Linked DNA regions of Homo sapiens: region 1 is linked to region 2. The links come from fine-mapping of genetic effects on gene expression. A gene starts in region 2. The other region holds a variant in brackets. All regions are shown on one strand. Distances are between the middles of the regions. Region 1 overlaps KIAA0930. Region 2 holds the start of KIAA0930.

What was found.
Region 1: its variant is fine-mapped to the expression of KIAA0930 in prefrontal cortex (ROSMAP, PIP 0.95).

The regions. Positions count from the first base shown.
Region 1 is chr22:45,206,164-45,209,180 of GRCh38, reverse strand. All of the region lies in intron 2 of KIAA0930, which reads left to right. Among named protein-coding and RNA genes, the nearest start is that of MIR1249, 6.7 kb to the right of the region's middle. The variant AT/T (reference allele first, on the strand shown) is at 1,695.
Region 2 is chr22:45,239,925-45,242,665 of GRCh38, reverse strand. KIAA0930 reads left to right here and starts at 1,772. Exons shown (of 10, transcript NM_001009880.2): 1 at 1,772-2,026. The coding sequence starts at 1,963. RefSeq lists silencers at 1,449-1,648, 1,679-1,738, 1,899-1,958, 2,109-2,198.

The sequences.
Region 1 (3,017 bases), 34 kb after region 2:
CCGGGCCTCCTGCACCTAGCAGGGGAGCGTGGATGGGCAGGAGCTGCAGTGTCAGGGGGACAGGATGCCAGGAACCCCGAGTGCTCCAGGGCCCAAGGGACATCCCCAGTCCAGCCTTTCCCAGGGAGGGATGTCCTGGATTCCCTGCCCTCTGTTTCCTCCAGCCCTGGACAAAACGCTCTGTGTTCCTGGGCAGCCCATTGTGTGCCTTTGGCAGGAGGGGGACCTGGCTCTGTGTGCTGCTGGCTCTGCGCTGGTGGCCGGAGCCCTGTGTCTCACGGTCACGTGACACCTCAGGATCCTAAGGTGCCGATCACCTTCACACCCACTCAGAAAACCAAAGCTCAGAGACGGGGAGGAAGCTTCCTGGGGTCACACAGTTTGCCAGCGGCGAAGCCCTGTCCCCAGTCTCACTTTTTCCTTTTTAGTAGATTGTTTTCAATATAACGTCTATACAGAAAAACACAGACGTGTACACAGTTTGATTCTTCTTAGACTGAACACCTGGTTTCACCAGCCCCCAGATACAGAGTGTGATGAGAACACCGAGGCCCCTTCACCCCACCCCAGGGCTCAACCTCCCCCTGGGCAGCTGCTGCTCTGTCTCCTCAAACTTCCCGGGCGGGTTCTGCCTGTTCTCACAGCTCCTGCATGTGGAGTCGGTGGGTTCTGCCTGTTCTTACAGCTCGTGCGTGTGGAGTCGGTGGTTCTGCCTGTTCTCACAGCTCCTGCGTGTGGAGTTGGGTTCTGCCTGTTCTCACAGCTCGTGTGTGTGGAGTTGGCGGGTTCTACCTGTTCTTACAGCTCGTGCATGTGGAGTCGGTGGTTCTGCCTGTTCTCACAGCTCATGTGTGTGGAGTCGGTGGTTCTGCCTGTTCTCACAGCTCATACATTGGAATCGGGCAGTATATGTTGTTTCAGGCTTCTTTCTCCGCATGTCATGTTTGTGAGTCATGCCTGTTGACACAGGTGGTTGTAATCTGGTCTCACTGCTGTGTAATGCCTGCAGAGTGTACCATGGCGGCCTGGCCACCCTCCTGTCAGTGGGTACCGGGCAGCTCCCAGTGTCCTCTTGGGCCTGGCTTTGGTGCGCACACGGACACCTTTCTGATGGGGAACCTGCTCTTTCGCCTGCCTGTGCTGTGGTGCTGCCCCGAACAGCCGTGTGATCGTGCCCCCGAGCCTTTCATTCACTGAGTCCACAGCGCTTTGCTGAGCAAAAGCAAATGAACAGGTCAATGAAGCGAGACCAGGAGGAACAGCAGAGTCTTGTGAACCCCAGGACTCTCAGCTCAGGGGCTCGGGGTGACTGCAGAACCATACAGGCGGTGGAAGTGGGGCCCCCCGACCCGGGGACGTCTGTTTCTCGCTCCTAGGCAAGGTTGGCCTCTTGCACCTCTTTCCATAGATCCCAGCTCTGCCTTTGGGGGGTGCAGGCCTGTGCACCTGCAAGAGGGCCCAGCAGTGCCCAGCCCCTCGGAGCCCGAGTCAGTGAGAGCACCCAGGACCGGGACCAGAGGCCCCCAGTCAGCACAGCTGCTTCAAAATTGAAAGCCAGGCTGGGCGCGGTGGCTCACGCCTGTAATCCCTGCACTTTGGGAGGCCGAGGTGGGTAGATCACTTGAGGTCAGGAGTTTGAGATCAGCTTGGCCAACATGGTGAAACCCCGTCTCTATTAAAAAAAAAAAAAAAAA[AT/T]TACGTGTGGTGGCAGACGCCTATAATCCCAGGTACTTGGGAGGCTGGGGCAGGAGAATCACGTGAACCCAGGAGGTAGAGGTTGCAGTGAGCCAAGATTGTGCCACTGTACTCCAGCCCGGGTGACAAAGCAAGACTTCATCTCAAAAAAATAAAAAAATAAGAAATAAATTGAGGCCGGGTGCAGTGGCTCATGCCTGTAATCCCTGCACTTTGGGAGGCCGAGGTGGGTAGATCACTTGAGGTCAGGAGTTCGAGATCAGCCTGGCCAACATGGTGAAACCCCCTCTCTATTAAAAATACAGAAAAAAATTAGCCAGGTGTGGTGGCAGACACCTGTAATCCCAGCTACTTGGGAGGCTGGGGCAGGAGAATCACATGAACCCAGGAGGTAGAGGTTGCAGTGAGCCAAGATTGTGCCACTGTACTCCAGCCCGGGTGACAGAGCGAGACTCCGTCTCAAAACAATAAATAAGAAATAAATTGAGGCCGGGCACGGTGGCCCATGCTTGTAATCCCAGCACTTTAGGAGGCCGAGGTGGGCAGATCACCTGAGGTCAGGAGTTCGAGACCAGCCTGGCCAACATGGTGAAATCCTGTCTCTACCAAAAATACAAAAAGTAGACAGGTGTGGTGGCACGTGCCTGTAATCCCAGCTACTCAGGAGGCTGAGGCAGGAGAATCATTAGAATCCAGGAGGCGGAGACTGCAGTGAGCCAAGATGTGTTGCACTGTAGCCTGGGTGACGGATGGAGTGAGATTCTGTCTCAAAAAAAAAAAAAAATTGGAAGCCAGTCTCCCAGGAGAGGTGTAGACATGCTTTGGTTTCTCTCTGATATGTATTTATTATTGATCTTCAGTAAATTTGACTCTGATCTGTTAACATGGGGCTAATGATACCTGCATTGCAGGGTTGCTTTAAAAGGATTAATAATTTGTAAAATGTGTAGCCCAGACCCCGCCGTCCACTAAGAGCTCAGTAGGTGTCACTATTATCATTGATGCCACTTAGCAAATATGAGCTCTTTAAATCATTATGACAACTTTGAGGGGAAGATGCCCTTAGTCCATTGTACAGATGAAGAAACTGAGGCTTAGTGAGGAGAATGGATGGCCCCTGGGTCCCATCTCCCGTCGCTAGAGAACTGGGGAGCAAGAATTGGAGTTCTGGCCGGGCATGGTGGCTCACACCTGTAATCCCAGTACTTTGGGAGGTCGAGGCAGGAGGATCACCTGAGCCCAGGAGTTCAAGACCAGCCTGGACAACATGGCGAAACGCCACATCTACAAAAAGTTTTAAAAATTAGCCGGGTGTGGTAGCA
Region 2 (2,741 bases):
TCGCGCACTTCCTTCATTCCCTCACTGCTCACCTTTCTACAGAGCCCTCCTGGGCCTGGCACTGGGGACACAGAGGGGTCAGATGTGGCTCTGCTCTGAAGAGTTCAGGGGCCAGTGGCACAAAACTGGGGCAGAGGCCTGAAGCAGGATCCAGATCCCATCTCCCTTCTGGGGCTCTGCCCAACCCCACGGCTCCTTCCTGCTGTGCCTCCCAGGAAGACCCCTGCGTCCCCATCAGACCTCTCCATCATTCTTCGTTTATGCAGCCTACATTTTTTTTTCTTTTCTTTTCTTTTTTTTTGGGGGGGGACAGGGTCTTGCTCTGTCTCCCAGCTTGGAGTGCAGTGGCGGGATCTCGGCTCACTGCAGCCTCCGCCTCCCAGGTTCAAGCAATTCTCCTGCCTCAGCCTCCAGAGTAGCTGGGATTACAAATGTGTGCTACCATGCCCGGCTAATTTTTGTATTTTTAGTAGAGATGGGGTTTCACCATTTTAGCCAGGCTGTTCTGGAACTCCTAACCTCAGGCAATCCACCTACCTCGGCCTCCCAAAGTGTTGGGATTACAGGCATGAGCCACTGTGCCCAGCCTGCAGCCCATATCTATTTATTGGGCATCTAATGTGTGCCAGGCAATGTTCTGGGTACTGAGACAACAGCTGTGTAGTAGACAGGCCCCTCCCTCGGTAGAGAAGAGAACAAGTGAACCCATAGGTATCCAATGTGTCGGGAGGAGGTAAGTGTCACCCTGTGAAGGAGAAACAGACTAAGGGAAGAGAGAGGGAGGGAAGGCGGTCAGGGGAGTTTCTTTGAGGATGTGACACTCGGGACACAAAGGAAGCAAGTTACACAGGAATGGGGAGAAGAGGACTCCAGACAGGGGAAAGGGGGACCTTGATGGGTCTGGGGTCCACACACAGGCTGTGAATGCAGGGAGTGATGTAGATTTAGCTTTGGAGAGACCTGGAAATCAATGCTGGTCTCTCCATCTCCCCCTGTTCTTGGAAATGGACCACCAGGCGTGAGGTTTGGGGAGGCCACTGGCTGCTTCTCCGGTGTCTTCCTGTATCAGCCACAACTAGCACACGGAGGGATGCTGGCCAGACCTGGCTTCATCAGGATGACACGCCCAGCTAACCTCATACCTCCCCCTTCATCAACACTCCCCCATGTTGGGGAGGCAAGGCAGGGAAAGGTCCCCCATGGTGCAGCTGAGGAAATGGAGGCGCAACACTCTGCACTGTGCCAGGTGCAGAGGAGGGGGGCCGGAAGGGCTTTGCCACGGTGTCCCCCAGGAGACCACCTTCTGGGAGCAGGTGACCTCTTGAGGGGTTCTGCGGAGGAAGTTCCCAGAAGTCAGCCGAGGGGACTTGGTGGAGGTGGCAACGCACAGGGCGGGTGACAAAGTACACATCCCGTGGGGTAGCAGCGGGGGAGGGGAGAGGTGCCCTGAAGGGGCGGCGGGAGGGGCTCAGAGGCGTGATCCCGTTGGTGGGGCGTTTAGGACCTTGGGTGGAGGCGGGACCCCGCGAGCGGTTTGAGGGAGGCTGTCCTGGGCATCCGAAGATTGGCGGAGACTGGCCGTTTGGAAGTGGGCGGGGCAAGGGAGGTCAGGGGGCGGGGCCAGGGAGCCGGGGTGGGTCCGGGCCGTTCAGAGGCGGGGCGGGAGGGGACAGGGGCGGGGCCGGGGCGGGGAAGGGGCGGGGCCGGACCGGGGCCGGGCCGGGCCGGGGCGGGGCGAGCGGAGCCGGGGGCGCGCGGGCGGCGGCGGCGCGGAGGTGCGCTCGCCGGTGCTGTGTTTGGCGGGTGGTGGCGGCGGCGGCGGCGACGGCGACGCGCACAGAGGCGGACTGTGGCTTCCTTGGTGCTCGCGGCGGGCTGCGGGCCGGGCCGCCCGCCCTCCCCGCCGCCGCCGCCCCCGAGCCTGCGGGCGGCGCCGAGGCCGAGGAGCGCTCGCTGCAGCACATGCTGCGTGCCATAGCGGAGGAGCGCGGCCGTCTTAGCCTGCGCCGCGAGGTCTGCGGCCTCGGTGAGTGGGACCCGGGGGCGAGGCCGGGCCGGGAGAGGTGAGCGTCTCCGGGGCCGCCTCTGCGCGTCCGTGTTTCTGTGCGCCCCGCGCATCTCTGTCTCTGCGCGGGTGTCGTGGTCTCTGGGTCTGCCTGGGTACCCTGTCTTCCTCCATGGCCCCCCCCCCACCGTCCCTGCATCTGGGTCTGTCTCTGCTTTCCGTCCGACGAGCGCCCCGCACCCCTGTGCCCGGGTCTCATTCGGCGTCTCCCCCTGTCAGTCCGTCCGGGTGTCTGTCTCATCTTCCTCCTTCTTCTTCGTGTCTCTGCGGGTCTTCTTCCTTCTCCAGGAAGCCCGCCCCGGGCCCTCAGCACCGCGGTAGGGAGTGTGGGCGTGGGATCTGGGTACACCCTTAGCCCAGCGCGGCAGGGTCGGGCCCTCGTTGGGCTCTGGGTGGACCTCGCTGCGAGCGTGCCCTGGCCACTGTCTCCTGCTACCCGAAGCCTTTGTCTTTCCGCACCCACCGGCCCCTCTCATCCCTTAGCTGTATCCAGGGACCTGTTGGGCAATGGCCCCCCGAACCCGCCCGCTTGGCTGAGGGGCAGGGCCTGCTGCCTCTCGGTGTGATTCTGGGCTTTAAGTCATGGATCTGCTGGGGGGCGTGGGATGGGGGTGCCTCGTATTGTTTGGAAGGGCCTGGGACTGCAGGTGTGGGTGGGGTCTCCCAGCCAGTGAGG